Regions from separate parts of the Homo sapiens genome. Here region 2 is linked to region 1. A link means that fine-mapping ties the variant in region 1 to the expression of a gene that starts in the linked region. Tissue or cell type: B cells. Region 1 holds a variant in brackets; the other region holds the start of a gene. All regions are shown on one strand. Distances are between the middles of the regions.

What was found. PIP is the estimated chance that this variant, and not a neighbour inherited with it, causes the effect.
Region 2: MTMR1 starts here. The variant in region 1 is fine-mapped to the expression of MTMR1 in B cells (Fairfax 2012, PIP 0.95).

What each region holds. Positions count from the first base shown.
Region 1 is chrX:151,129,994-151,138,102 of GRCh38, reverse strand. No RefSeq gene overlaps it. Among named protein-coding and RNA genes, the nearest start is that of MIR4330, 34 kb to the left of the region's middle. The variant A/C (reference allele first, on the strand shown) is at 4,832.
Region 2 is chrX:150,689,429-150,697,537 of GRCh38, reverse strand. MTMR1 (myotubularin related protein 1) reads right to left here and starts at 4,142. Exons shown (of 16, transcript NM_001306144.3): 1 at 3,862-4,142. The coding sequence starts at 4,007. RefSeq lists enhancers at 2,599-2,678, 2,699-2,798 and silencers at 3,692-3,831, 4,142-4,211.

The DNA of each region.
Region 1 (8,109 bases):
TTGAAACTGACCCTCTTGGTCTTAAAGCCTGAAACTTGCATTTGTCTTATCTGAGTTTCTTCCTGAGGAAACCAACCCTCGGGCCTCCCAGATAGTTCAAGGAATTTAAACTCACCAGATCACCACATCCAAACAATGGGATGCCAGACCCCTCATCCATCATGATGCCTGTTTACCAACTCCTCTTCTTTATCCCTCTGTAATTCCTGTTTTCTGGCATGTAGTTACATTTCTTCCTGCTATATAAACCCCTAACTTTAGTCAGTCAGACAGATGGATTTGAGACTGATCTCCCATCTCCTTGGCTGCTGCACCCGACTACAGCCTTCTTCCCTGGCAAAATTCATCATCCTGGTGATTGGCTGTCTGTGTGGCCAGCAGCAGGACCTAGTCCAAACCCCTGGCATTTCAGTAACAGACTTTGATTCCCTAACTGGGAATGCATTGCTCATGGCTTAGTTGCTGTGGGCCAGGAGTTTCAGAAGCCCTCCTAAGCAGCTGCCCATCCCTTTTTTAGCCGGAGGTAACTTTCAGTTTCTCTCTGGCTCCGCAGCTGCCAGCACTAATACTAGACAGCAGGATCTGCTCCTCTCATTTTGGGAAACTCTGAAGGAATTTCTGTGTGCAGGTTGAACAAGCCCAACTGACTGAGAGAGGAAGCACCCCTACTGTTTTAGTTTGGGCCCTCTTGGGGCTTGTTGGTTGGTACAGCAGTTGGATTGTGTTTTGGTGATGGTGTGTGTGTGTGTGTGTGTGTGTGTGTCAGTATAGTCACAGGAAATCAGAATTTGATAAACAAATCATCTTTTATAATACTGTTTGGCCCCACTATTCTTTGGAGTCTGGAACAGCTTCACCTCTCCATGGGTCTCATTTTGTTGTTGAATGAGAAAGCAGGATAGAATTTCATGTATTCAGGCTTTTATGCTGTTGTTCTAAGCAGAATCAGGCCTGGTTAATACGTGATGTTCTTCTGTGGTACTGTTTGGCCCTGGAGTTCTTTGGAGTCTAAAGACGTTTGGCCTTTAAAAATCAAAATGCCATGGAAACTGCTTTACTCCAAATTTTGGTTCACAACCATAACTGGATTACCTACCAGGGCAAACAAAATTTAGCAATGTGAAAATGTTCATAAACTAGTGAGCTTGTATTGCTATCTTATGGCTAGAGTTCCAAGGTAAAAGCCATTGGAACTTTGTGCATGTATATACATGTCTAGATGTGTTTATTTGTATGTACATTTATTAGGTTATATGTTGTGTCTTCCAAATTGGCTTATAATTGAGAGTGCTTAAATTAAAGGAGCACATAAGTTAAATAAATATGTCCTAGCATTTTTCAAGTTCACATGACTTGAATATATCTTCTTTAATAAACAAGCTGGCTTTAAAATTATTGGTAAAATAAAAATAGAAATGTCTTTAAAATTGTCAGCATACATTTTTGTCTGGATTTTACATTTGTCCATGCTAGATACTTTGAGGTGTCAGGATTTGGCACGAAAGGTTATAAAACTATAAATCTAGCCAAAACCAAAATGATCTCTGTTTGTGTGACTTTTGACAAATAAGACCAATTTAATGTTGTTGGTTTCACAGCTGAATCTTCTGAATTATTGGTAAAAATACCCATGTATTTAACTTAAAGATTCTTACTTAGGTGCACACCTACTATGCACAGGTTATAAAAATGAAATGACGACTAGCTTTGTCTAATATCTCAGTTCTCATAAGTTATGTAGATAAACTGCTAAAAACGAATGAAATGTAAATGGGATAAATGCTGTATGTGAACATTTTGTGTAACTTAAAATCTTAAGATCATTTTGGATGCTCATTGGATGCCTGGGTCACTTTCAATTGTGAAAGCATTCTGACATGGGGAAACAATTTTTTAAAGTGTGGAATGGTTCTCATCTAGAAAATGCTAACATTTGATAGTTCAGGATTTTCTGCTTCCTTGGTTTTCACTAAAATTTATGGTTACTAAGAATAAGAAGTATAGTTAATAGATAATTCTGTATATAAAATGTGCTAAAGAAGATGTGTTCCTGTTAAGAAAAAGAATAATTATGTTTAATTCGGAAGTTGTCTGAAGGTTTATTCAAATTATGGACTTGAAAAGGTTATTTATGAAACAAGGTAGAAAGAAACCAATAAGTAGGGGAGAGAGATTTGAAGAAAGTTGTGGATATGAAGATGTATTTTTAATAAGGAAGTTTATAAAGAAAGAATAATTTCATATGAGAAAGAACCTTGTAAAATAAATTTTTGTCCTGAGTAAAATGGTTAGTTATTTTAAAAAGAAAAAAATTAGGACAAAATAGAATGTCCAAGCATGTCATGGATGGTCTGTGTAAATCATATACAGTTGTGTTTTTTTTTTTCTGGTTCTCTGTGTGTCTATCTTCATGCACATACAAAGAAAATAGAAAGTTTAAAAAGTTTAGATAATAAAATATTTGTTAAAACCTAATAAAAAATGGAGAAATTTGGCTAACATTGCTCATAGTTAAAGCTCTTAATTTTGATTAAGGTAAAATAGGAAATATTGTAAAGAAATACATTGGCAGTTTGGCCATTCTTTTTCAATGTAGTTAAGCATGAAGCCAGATTTAACATGGAGCCAAATTTCACATAAATGTTTGCATTCCTTTACTTCACAATGTATTTGCTATGCTGCATAGACAGTACTAACACTAAGTACTTACTAGTCATGTGCCTAAAGTGAATTTCTTAATTGCATAAAATCTATACTGGTATTGGTGGACTTAAAGACATTAATTTGTATACCAGGAACAAAATATCCCTCATGTGTTTTTTTTAGGCTCTGGGTAATGCTGGAGCCTTTAAGGTGAACTGAGTAGGAGAAAACCTGGGGGTTGTTTTCTTGTTTGTTTTTGCTTTTCATTTTAATTTTGCTATTTGTTCTCCTTTGGGTTTTACTTATATATACATATATACATACCTACACATATGTATGTATATATACATACCTACACATATGTATGTATATATACATACCTACACATATGTATGTATATATACATACCTACACATATGTATGTATATATACATACCTACACATATGTATGTATATATACATACCTACATGCTTAGACATTCTATTTTGTTGTAATTTTTTTTCTTTTTAAAATAAGTAACCATTTTACTTAGGACAAAAATTTATCATACAAGATATACATATGTATATGTATGTATATGTGTATATATATGTGTGTGTGTGTGTGTGTGTGTATATATATATATATATATATATATATGCTGTCTAGTTTCTAATAGAGAACTTTCATTTGGTTCTATGAATAGTCTTGTGTTTCCTGTGCATTTCCAAAAATATATCATTTGCTCTATTTATCTGAAATTACTAAGCTACTTTATTAAGCCTCTAAAAATTGATAGAACGCACTGTTCACTTAAACTTTGATTGATTTTGCTCACCTCTCATGATCTAGAGAGGTATAAGAGCTTTAAGGTTCCTGGCAAAAAAAATCAAATAAAAGATTTATTTTTGTAAGTTCTGAACAGAAATAGTACATTGGTTTGTTATTTGGAAATGTAGTTGAAAGTGTTTAAATGGTGTTTATCTCCAAGTTAATTCAATTCAATTAATAATTTGGGTTGGTTTCAGATCTTTTCCTTCAGGTATTGAGGAAAAATCGTGATATGTGTACAAAGTTTTAATGTTCATGAAAGATTGGCCTTGTCCTTAAGGAAATTACATTCACTGCTATTTCTCTCAGACTACTTTAGTTGCATTTACCATTATTAAAATTAAATGACATTCACTTGGATTAAGCAGTAATAATAAAAATGTGAGGCTTTCTAGTGATATTTGGTCCCAAGACTTTTATCACTGTCAGGCCCTCATATGTGTGCCTGAAAACAAAATATGTACAAGTGTTGCAGTGGTTTGAAGATTCCAGTGGTGAAAGTTACTGAATCAGTTGTCAGTACTGTATCTAGAAACCAATCATGGAAATGTGTGATGATACTCTTTTAAAATAGCTGAAAAGAAATTATTCTGTACCTGTTCTTACTCTGTCCCTGTTTTGTTGGATAATATTTGAGTGAAAGGAACTTATTTATCCTCACACTGAATTCCAAAACTGATATTTGCATTTACCATTTTTTAAATGATGGAGAGAAAAGTTAATTGTCTTACTTAGATATGTTTGCCATAGGACCTATAACATTTCTGATGCTTTAGGTCACAGTTCCATCACTAAAATGCTACCAATTAGATATGTGCAAGGAGTAACCTAATCACTTTATTTTTTGGTAATTTTATACTTTTTTTTGAGACAGAGTCTCACTCTGTTGCCCAGGATGGAGTGCAGTGGCATGATCTTGGCTCACTACAACCTCTGCCTCCCAGGTTCAAGTGATGCTGCCTCAGCCTCCCAAGTAGCTGGGATTACAGACATAAACCACCACACATGGCTAATTTTTGTATTTTTAGTAGAGACGGGGTTTTGCCATGTTGGCCAGGCTGGTCTCAAACTCCTGACCTCAAGTGATCCACCCACCTTGGCCTCCCAAAGTGCTGGGATTACAGGCATGAGCCACTTGTGCCCGGCCAATATAATGTTTTTAATAATCTTGTGCATGAAACAAGGTTTGTGTATATAGAACCATCAGAAAGCAAAGGTGTCACTATCTCAGCCATCCATGTGGATAATCTGTGGTTGTTTGGCATCCATTATTCCTAACTCTGAATTTATATGCTACGAATAAGCAATCACTTTCTTACACTTGTTTACACACAAGTACTTAACAGTAAAAAATATGACATATCATTCATACAGTGA[A/C]AACATAATGTGTTCAAGTAACTAAGCAGCACAGTAGCACCACCAGAATTCCTGTGTCAGCTGTTCAACAACAGCAACAACATACAATACCACATTTTCAATCTCCACGTATGATGCTGTGTTTCCATTAAAATGGGTACTGTACACTGTATTTTATTTTTTAGGTGAGAAGAAATACCACAAGCAGTGGAGAAACCAGGAAGTAGGCCCTTTAGGGATGAGGAGGCATTCTGCTAGATGACTTTTTAAAGTGTTTCCTCCAGAGTAATTTGTCTCATTAACAACAGTTTTTCTCTTCTTGATTTTATAAACTGACATGATTTCTTATTTCTTATTTGTTATGAATGCATACTGCTCTAGTCCTCCAATAAGCCCATCATACATTTTCACCATATCATCTAAAGGCACTTTTTCTGCAGTGTTAATAATGTCATCTTCATCATTGCTATGATCATATCACCTTTATTCAGGATCATGTTGACTCTTCCACCACTGGTTAATGAATGAAAAACTGGATTGTTCATCATTACTGAGCATAATCACAGGCCAGAGGTTGTGCCAGGCATGCACGGCTGTGTCCTTAGTCACTGTTTTCCAAGCATTAGTAACAGTATATATGGTATCATTTATGCCCAACTCCTTTTAAAAACCTTCCACACCCATACCTTTCTTCATTGCTACTAGCATGCTGTTCGATAAAGTTTTTTTTTTAAATATTTACTCTTCAGTGAGTTAAGGATACCCCAGTCACATGGCTGAGTTAATAGAGTCACATTTGGGGGAAATACATGGTATAAACATTATTTTTAATGAGAATTTCAGCTGAGGAACGAGCAAAACAATTGTCAAGGAATAACTAAATCTTGCAATGGTCACCCAGTCCAGCTTCCCTGAAGTGAGCACAAGCTGCTGGTACAAATTGTGAAACCAATCAGAAAAGGCATCGCTAGCGATCCATGCCTTATTGTTAGCATAATAATGGACTTAAAAGAAATTCACTCCTTGAAAACAACAAAAATGCAAGCTTTTGCCTACCACAGTAAGCTGACAGTTATGTGTGCCTGTGGCATTAGCACATTCTAGCACAGTTATTCTGTCCTTGGCATCTTTAACTCCTGCAGGGGCTGTCTCCTCCTCTGTAGTCAGTGTATTTCTGGGGCAGTGGTTTGAAGTGCTGCAGGCAGTAACTACTGGAGACCAAATCACAGTGTTTTAATTTGTGACATGTTAGAGAGAATAATAGGACTTTCTGCAGTATTAGTAAACTGAAGCACTAATTTCTAAATGTTCTTTTTTTATGTCTTTAAATGTTTCATTAAACATTGGCTTCTGTTTTTAGCATAAATGCATATATTATACTCGATCATTTATATTGTAGATAGAAACTTATTTTACAGCAAAGTAGTCTGTCTGCATATTATGGGTAGAGTGCCCCTTTATTGTAATTTTATTTCTATATTGCTTTTAAAGCCTTTTGATGATCACTTTTGGTTAAATGAATAACTGTTATTTTACAATGACCTGTGATTCTGTTTTAATAAAACGTTTCAAGTCTTTTAATTTCTTTGATAAGCATCCTATTAACTAATCCTTGTGCTGTTAAGTTACAGGGTCTTGACTCCTGGGTCTGAAAAAGGTGCCGATACCTGCTAAATCTTGAACATTGACACCAGTCAAAGCCTCATCTTTAGACCCAGGAGAAGGCAGCAATCAAAATGAACTGCTTTCATGAGACACAGGGCCAGGAATTAAAACTATCCAATCCATCTAGGCCCAGGAACTATTGCAGAAGGGGGGCAGGCACATGAGATTGTAAGGGCCAATTTTGACAAATAAAATTAGTTATGTATGTTCTTTTGTGGTGGTTGTATGTGTCCTTATGTAACCTTCAAAAGATCTCACTGTTCTAGGCCGATGCTGAACATACAACTCAGCTTGGCGGGCAGGGGTGCAGGGAACTGGGCTTCCATTCTTAAATGGCAAAGGAAATTCCTTTGATTCATAAGCAATTCTGTAACCTTACTTTTTGGCTTTTAGTTTTTGGCTATTATGTTGCTTAAAGGGTTTTAAGTGTTAATGAGTGCCTGCCCCCCTCCATTCTTGTCTGGTCTACAGTGTTTAATTGGCTGTTAGTCTTTTGACTCTATGTCCCTTGGCTATAGAGGTCCCACTGAGGGATGAGATGGACCTAAAACATGTAGCCACACCACCTTGGCAACACTATGGGACAAAATAAATTCCTAAGCCCCCCATTGACTGAGTAGGCCCACTTGTGGCCAAGGGGACCCCAGTTGCCAAGAGATAAATCTTAACTGGGAAAAGGTCTTGTCCCTTGCCCTGCTGAGGATGTGGGTAGCCCCTAAAAGTGGATTGGCTTTTAGAGCCTCCAAAATGTATGGAAGACCATTTCTCTAACCTCCAGACTCCTTGACACTTTAGTATTTTTCCTCCTCTGACACAGAAGCTAGGTCATATATAAAACAATTAGGAAATATATTAACTAGTCTCTAAGTTTGCTTCCAACAGGCTTCAGTTCCCTAGAGATGTACCTCTCCACTTTTTGAAACTGGGAGATCCCAAGTCCTGCTGAAGACCTGGAAATCCCACCAAGCTGTAGATGAGCTGCAACCACAATGGGTCAGCCCTTTGGAGGTGCTGCTGATCACTCACTCATCTGTCAAGTTAGCTGGTGCTAAGTCGTGGATTCACTATACTCGGGTAAAACCAGTCCCTCTGGAATCTCTCCCAGGGAATCAGTCATGGTCTTGTGAACCCTCAGATGGCCTTAATATCTAAAGTCCAGTGAAAGACCCTAGTTAAAAAATCATAAAGGGAACATGTAGCTTTCGCGATTATTTTATTGGATTCCCCAAGGGATCCACTCCATATCCTTTGGTGTTTTAAAATTTAGGTTATCCATGTTATTAATCATCCTAGTCAATGTGACTTAAAATGTTGTTCTAAAACCATTAAAGTATCCAGGTCCTGGTGTTCCAACAAGTCAGATGCTGACCAGGTACTTATGAATACTTCCAATTACAGGGGTAACATTTTCATTCCTCATCAGTATCATATAATGCCCTTCCTCAGCATAAAGCAGTCAGAAAGATCAACCACCAGATTCCCCATGATTGAGGAACTGATAAGTAGAAATAGAGGACTGAAACCGGCCAATTGTCTCACAGAACTGGTGTTTACCGTCTTTTGGATAAACATAGAAATTTGAAATTGACCCTCTTGGTCTTAAAGCTTGAAATCTGCATTTGTCTTATCTGAGT
Region 2 (8,109 bases), 440 kb after region 1:
AGAAATCAAGCTAGAGGGCTAAAAACACCGACAAAAGTTTACCTTGCAGGTAGCTTTCACTGTAAAGAATGTTTCAGGCCTTTAAAAAAAAAATCATATCACTAATTAAACCCACACTCACATATCTGAAGGACAGAAACACCTGGAATCCCCAGGCAATATGGAAAATGACCCAAATAGTAAAAGAAAGAAAACTGAAGTTCTGTGCTAGTGATCCAAATTGCAGTCTCTGATCAAAACAGACCAGAGGTTATCTGTATGGTTGAAAATACTGAATGAGCAGAAATTCCTATCACATGCCAGGAATCTATATACCACAATTTCGACCTGAGGGGGAGAAGGAGAGAAAAGGGAGAGATTTGTTTCCTTTTTAAAGGTTAAGTCACTTTCATTCCCACGTATATCATACTTTTCTTGTCATAATGCCTTTTTCTGTCAGCACCCACCAGTTGCAAATACAGGAAGAAACTGCAGAAACCCAACTGCTGAGCATGAGTGTGACCTGCTATTACCACCTGCCTGCCCGGCATGCCTTCCCCCTTCTTCTGATAAAGACCTTCCTCTTTACTTTGGGAACTGCCCTTCCCCACAACACAGGCTTCTGTGGGGGAAAGCGGAGAAGAAGGTTGACCCCTTCCTCCACCTGCTCCCACTTGTAGGTGAGTTACCTAGGACCAGCCAATCCCAGACTTTTCCCCTTGGATCCTGAAATACATGGATCTGTATCCAGAGCTGCTGGAGGCCACTCCCCACCCCACCCCACCCCTACCATCTTAAGGAACTCACAGCGATTAAAAAGTGAGGGAAAATAAAAGAGAGAGGGAGAGAGAGATGGGGAGTCCCGACAACACTGTTTGCAATCCTGACCTCAACTGTGCCTGTGGCCATCTCTCCTCCTGTCTGGAGCAGTTCTGTGAGCCAGGGCATCTCATTTGCCTTAAGCTAGATTGAACTGTGGTTTCTGTCACCTGCAACCAGAAGCATCCTGGCCAATGTAGTTACACACAGTGAAGCACAGTGGGTTAGCAGACAGGAGGCCTGGACATGAGTCCTGCTTCTGTCACCAGCTAACTCCATGATCTTTGGCAAGACACATCCTCTTACAGGACCACAGCTTCCTCATTATTAATTACAGTATTCAGAAGAGAAGTGAAGGCCCCATAGTCCCAGGGACATGGCCAAGTCCCACCCATAGAGCCAGGTTCCATTCTAGAGGTCACTCTTCAAAGAAAAGTGTGAATCTGAGCTTGTTGAGCTGACAGAACTGAGAAAGGAGGCCATGATTCCTCCCCCATCCCTTCTCTGTAGTCTGTGCAATTGCCCTCTATACTCCTGGTGTCAATAACTACTTACAGGCTGGAGGCTCCCAGCTCTGTTTCTCCAACCTGGACTCTCCTGATCTCAATGCTGATGTTCCTACAAGACCTGTCCACTAGTCTGGCCCAGAGACCCTGCCAATTCAACCTGTCTAAACCAGCATCAGCCGCTCAGCCCCGCAACCTACTCTGCTCCTGTGTTTCCTAACTCAGGGCGCAGCACAGCCAGTTATCCGGCCCCCACACGCTAGAAAGCTGAGGTTTGCCTTGGAGTCCACCCGGCACTCCCCCCTCACATCTGAATGCTCACCATGTCGGGTCACTCTTACCTGGTAAGCATCTTGAAAATCCACCCAGCCCTATTCCTAGCCCAATTCCCTTTTCCAGACCTCCATCATTCTTCTGTGAACTCCACCTGCCTCATGAATTTAAGCCTCATCTATAAGCCCATGACTCCCCAGTTTGAATCTCCAGCCCAGACAACCCTGAACTCCAGGCTCAGATAGATCAACTATATCTTTGACATCTATTCTGGGACATATAATTGGCATCTCAAAATTGATATGTCCAGAGCGAAGAGCCTGCTATTTTCTAACCCTGCTCCACCTTAGAAAGACTTCTCCATCTCAGCAACACAATTTTCCCACAAGCTAAAATTTTGGAATTCTCCCAGATTCTTCTCTCATACCAACCAACCAATCTTCAGCAAACCCCATTGGCTCTACCCTGCAGGTCTTCAAATTACATGTAGTATCTGACCACTTCTCCCCTCCTCCGCTCCACTCTGGACCACCATCTCACTTGGCTTACTACAATAGCCTCCTACTGACAGTCTCTGCTTCAGCTCCTTCCCCTTTCACTCTATTGTCCACATAGCACCATGGAGAGCCTACTGAAATCTACAACAGATGATGTCACTCCTCTGCACAAAGTCCCCAGTGGCTCCCCATGGCCTCTGAGGCTCTCCACCATCTGGCTCTGTGACTTCTCTAACGTCATCCCTTACTTGTCTCTCCCTAGCTCCCTCCCTGCTAGTGACACCTAGTCTCCTCGCTGATCTAGGAACACTTGGCTCACATTCACCTCAGGGGCTTTGCACAGGCCTCTGACTAGAATACTATCACCCCCAGGTATCTGTATGGCTGGATCCCTCGCCTCTTTGGGGGCATTACTCAAATGTCAGCTTTCTCAGGCTTTCCCTGATCATCAAAATCTCTGAAGGAAACCAGAAGATGAGGCATATTTGGGGGTGACACATTCTGGTCTCCTTTGGCTTCTTAAATGATTCTGATGCATGCCCATCCTGAGTACTTCTGTGTTCGCCTCTACCACCTATCTCATTTATCACATTCGATTTCCACTGTTGGTTGGTTTGTATTCTCCACTAGATGGTAAGTCTAGCAAAATGGTAAGGCAGCAAAAGCCGTGTTGTGCTATTCTCTGAATCGCCCAGACCTCGTGTGTGGTTGAATATTTGCAGATGAGTGAAGTCCTCACCATTTCAAGTGCTGTCTTAGCTGTGACTGGTTTTCAGTGACACTAACCACTTGGGTGATTAATTTATTAAAATATATTGTAATTACACTGAGGTAGAAACAAAAGTGAAGGGAATGTTTCTTGTTTCTGTGCTTTTGGAAACTCCCAAAAGTTTGGCACAATGGGATGACCAAGACAGGCAGGAATGGGCATGTAAAACTGACTGAGCTACATTCCAACAGTGCATGCTGCCTGAGTGCACTCTGGTGTCAGGGAAATGGCCAAGTTGTGGGAAAACTGGATGTTCCGGGTTACACGATAGGCCATCTCTTGTCGTCGGAGGAGGCGGTGGCCCCTCCCAGTTCGACACGGTCACTTTATGTTTCTAACTGATTTCTCTTAGTTCTGCAGCTGCCTCAGAAGCAGTAGGCTTGCTTGTGTGTTCATGAAAACAATAAACTGGTTCCCTCAAAGTGTGAAGAACTGAAAGTAAATGGTTCTGTTTTCTTGCCTCCTGAGCAGTTTGGACGTTTTCCATCTCAGATTTTTGCCTCGATCTGCACCAGCTCCCACGCCCGCGGGGTCCCATCTCCCCGTCCTCACTCCCAACCCCCCATCAAAGACCCTAAGCAGCCACAGCAGAATTGGGGTCTTAAAACCACACGAGGCAAGGTGATGCTAGAAGAGGAGAGCCCGGGTGGGATCTCCCTCCCAAGAGGATTGGTGGCCTGGGCAGGGACAGCCAAGCGATCGCCAAGGGCAGCAGGTGGCGGCGCCGGAAGTGGTTTGACAGCTGCGAAGCCCCTCCCGGGGTTCCAGGAGCTGGGGCTCTCGGGGCGGAAGTGAGCCAGGTGCGCGGCCCGCAGCAGGTCCGAGGGCAGCAGTCCCCGGATGGGGCGCTGAGGTTTCCGGGGGTGGGGGGGAGGAGGGCCCAGAGGGGATGAAGAGGGGCCGCCCACCCCGCCACCGCCAGGCCCTGCGCAGCGCGCGGGGAGGGGGCGGGCTGGCCTCGCGCGGGGCCCTCGGGAGTCGGGGCGCGGGAGGCCGGGGCAGCCCGGGCCCCGCTTACCTGTCCAGGGTCTCCACGCTGGGCTGCCGGGAGCCGGCGGTGGCGCCCCCCGCGGCCCGAGGAGGCCTCCTGCCGCCCGCCGGCCCCGGGTTCGGGCCCCCGCCGCCCTCGCAGCCCGCCGCCGCCGCCGCCGCCGGCCTGTCCATGGCGCGCCGAGTCCTGCCGCCTTGGGGAAGCCGCCGTCGGGACGGGAGCGGCGGCCGGGAAGGTTTCGCTGCTTGCCTCCTGCCGCCCGCTCTATACCGCCCGCCCGCCTCAGGCGGCCGCCGCCATTAGCTGTCACCTGGCGGCCCCGCGTTACCCACAAGGCCGCGCGCGCGGGGGTCGGGGGGCGGGAGCGGGGGCGGGGAGGGCGGCGCGCGGGGCCGGCGCCGGGAACCCCCACCTCGCCCAGCCCCACCTGGGCGCTCGCCCACGGAGCCTTACAGCGGGGATCTGGGACCTCCTGCTCCAGCGACCTGGGTGCGTACAGAGCCACTGGGGTTCGGAATCCCCAAACGGATTATGCGTAGCGTGCTTCACTCTATAGTCACACCGGGTTGACTGCAGAGACGTGGGGTGTAAAAAGAAGTTTGAAGACATTCAAGTATCAAAAATGATTTCCCACCTCAGTTGTCCTTCCCGGAAAAGGTATAGAACAGCTCAAGCTCCCTCGGTCTTGACATCTTGAAGCAGGAGCAATTCCGTGCATTTTAGCAATTCCTCCCCACCCCATTCTTCCCTCCACTCTCCCCCTCCATACGCACCCCGCCGCCCCGCCACAAACCCACCCCCTTGCCATCTGTAGGGCAACCAAGTGTTCTGATGCCGCCCTCGGAGCTTCCGCCCATGGTTTATGTTAAGAGTAACATTTAACTTCTGTTGATTAAAAAATCACTGCTATGAACATCAAGCCAATATCTTGGTGAGGCATTTAGGACATTTGCTTTCTGGGCTAGATTTATTTCCTTGCTCATTTTGTTTGGGTTCGAATATCCAACAGCTCATCCCCTCTCACCTCACCCCTGATTAAGTTGGGAGTGGGTGTGTGGCTCGTGATTAAGCCTCTTTGCCTGTGATTGCTCTGGGTGTAGACAGGAGGCCTGCGACCCAGGTCTGGAAAAGAAGATATAAAGGGAACAATTTGCTCACTGTTAAAAGGCAGATCTGCAGACAGGGAGTTACTCATGCCCATCCCAGACCCATCCTGCCCCACCAGCTTAATAACTTCAAACTGAACTTTGAGGATATGATGCCTGAAGCCCCGACAGCCATCTTACGCACAAGAGGAGGTGAGCCTGGGGTAAGAAGATGACAGAGTGAGGAGGGCTAGGAGGAAGGAAAGGAAGATCCCCAGACAATAATAGCTCCTATCTCACACTGGAGAATCACCGACTGCAGGTTGCTGGCTTTCTAAAATTATTAAATCAAATGGTTAACCCACTGTTATGGACTGAATGTTTTCATCCCCCTGAAGTCCATATGTTGAAGCCCTAATTCCCTGTGTGATGGTATTTGGAGATGGGGTCTTTGAGAGGCAATTAGGTCATGAGGGCCAAGCTCTAGTCTGATGGAACTGGTGCTTTTTAAGAAGGGTCACCAGAGAGCTTGATCTCATGCACTCACATGCACACACTGAGAAAAGGCCGTGTGAGTACACAGCAAGAAGGTGGCCATCTGCAAGCCAGGAACAGAGCCCTTACTAGGTCCCTGCTGGACACTTAATCTTGGACTTTCCAGCCTCCAGAGTTGTGAGAAAATTTCTGTTGTTTAAGCCACCCAGTCTATGGTATTTTGTTTTGGCAGCCTAAGCACACTAAGACACCCACTTTTAGTTGGGTATTTTGTTACAAGTAGCTGCAAGCATCTTAGCTGTGCTGAGAATTGTCAGAAAGAAAACAGTGCAACTTTAAGCATATTTTAAGTACCATATTCTTTAAGAAACATTAGGCCAAAGAGGAATTCACTGTGACACTGTCATACTTCCAATTCAGTTAAGTACACTTAGGATTTAGAGGACAGAGATGAATCTGACATATCCCTGCCTAAGATGTTCACAATCCAGTGAAGGGGACAGACAAATTAACAATGACATTACAAGTTGGCAAGTGCTATAATGGGGACAATTGCACAGGATGTGGAACACCTACCCCAATCCATAGGAGAAGAGGAGGTCAGGAAAACTTCCCCAAAAAGGTGACATAAAACTGAATCTTTAAAGATGAGTAAATCCTTGATGAGGCAAAGGAGTCAAGTTATTCCAGGCAGAAGGCACAGTTATGGGCAAAGGTGTGGATTAGTAGGTATATTAATCTGTTTTGCTTTGCTGTAAAGGAATACCAGAGACCTGGTAATTTATAAAGAAAAGAAGTTTATTTTGGCTCACAGTTCTGCAGACCGTACAAGAAGCATTGTGCTGGCATCTGCTTCTGGTAAGGGCCTCAGCAAGCTTACAATCATGGTGGAAGGCGAAGAGGAAACAGGCATGTCAAATGGTGAGAGAAGGAGCAAGTGAAAGGTGAGGGAGGCACCAGACTCTTTCAAACGACCAGCTCTTGCATGAACTCATAGAACGAGGATTCACTCATTACCACGGGGAGGGCACAAAGCCTTTCCTGAGGGGTCCACCTTCAGGATGTTCACAATCCAGTTTGCAACCCAGACACCCCTTACTCAGCCCCAACTCCAACATTAGGGCTCACATTTCAACATGAGATTTGGACGGCACAAACATCCAAACTCTATCTGTAGGTTAAATAGCTTATTATGTGCAAGAGAATGCCAAGAAATCGAGTGTTACTGGAGCATAAAGTCAGACAAGATAAGTGAGGATCTGGACTGGTGGTAGGCCAAGAAGTTTGGGCTTTGTTCTGCAGCTCACCAGATCTCAAATGTTAGTGTGCAAGAATCAGCCCCAGTCTGCATTTTCAGCAAATGCTCCCATGATTCTGATGCGGGGCTTGCTGCACTTGGAGAAATACTATTGTATAGTCCCCCATCTACGTCCATTTGATAGATTGTGCTTCCAAAGACTGCTGCAATAATATCCCCCATCCCACACACTCTTTTGCAAGGTGATCTTACCACTCATACATCAAGAGGTGGATTCTGTTTACCTTCTCCTTGAATGTGGACTGGCCCTGTAACCCCTTTGACCAATAGAATGTAGCAGAGGTGATGCTGTATAATTTCCAAGGCTAACCCTTAAGGGATTTGCAACTTCCAGTTTGCTTTCTGTGCATACTCCTTCTTGGAAGTCAGCTGCCATACTCTGAGGAAGCCCAAGCAGCCACAGGGAGAGGCCCATATGGAAGAGAACCAAAGCTCTCAGCCAATAGCCCTAGCTGAGTTCCCCAGGCAGCATGGCCAGAAGCCAGCACTAACTGCCAGCTATGTGAGTGAGGCCATTTCAAGCCTTTCAGTCATTCTGGTGGCCTAGCCAACACCACATGAAGCTGATGAATCATACAATTGACTCACAGATTTTTGAAAACTAATGAATTATGGTTTTAAGCCACTAGGTTTTGGGGTGATTTTTTGTGCAGCAATAGAGCACCCAAGCATTGCTCTTGATGAATGATCCAGAGAAGTAATCCCCTACCTGCTCAGCTCCCTTCCCCATTCAGCTATAGGAATCCATGCACAAATCACAGCCACACTCCAAGGAGGGTACTCCACAGTAGTAGGTCAGAAGCTGTTATAATCTAAGATTTTACCCTACTAGCAAGCTGAAAATTTAGTTGATCACCACACTCTAACACTCTGAGAGAAAATATAAAGCCTCTGGATCCGAAACAAAGACAGTTTATTATTCACAGCAAAATCAGCAGCCACAGCAATATCTTGGATCTGCATCCTGAACCCCAGTCTCTACAGGGTGGCATGCTGTTCTGCAGTGCAACCTTGCCACTCTTACATTAAGAGGTGGTATCGGCTGGGCGTGGTGGCTCACGCCTGTAATCCTAGCACTTTGGGAGGCCGAGGTGGGCAGATCACCTGAGGTCAGGAGTTCAAGACCAGCCTGGCCAACGTGGCGAAAGCCCATCTCTACTAAAAATACAAAAATTAGCCGGGCGTGGTGGCACATGCCTATAATCCCAGCTACTTGGGAGGCTGAGGTAGGAGAATCGCTTGAACCCAGGAGGCAGAGGTTGCAGTGAGCTGAGATCCTGCCACTGCACTCCAGCCTGGGCGACAGTGCGAGACTCCGTCTCAAACAAAACGAAACAAAACAAAACAAAAACAGGTGGTACCTATTTCCCCTCCTTT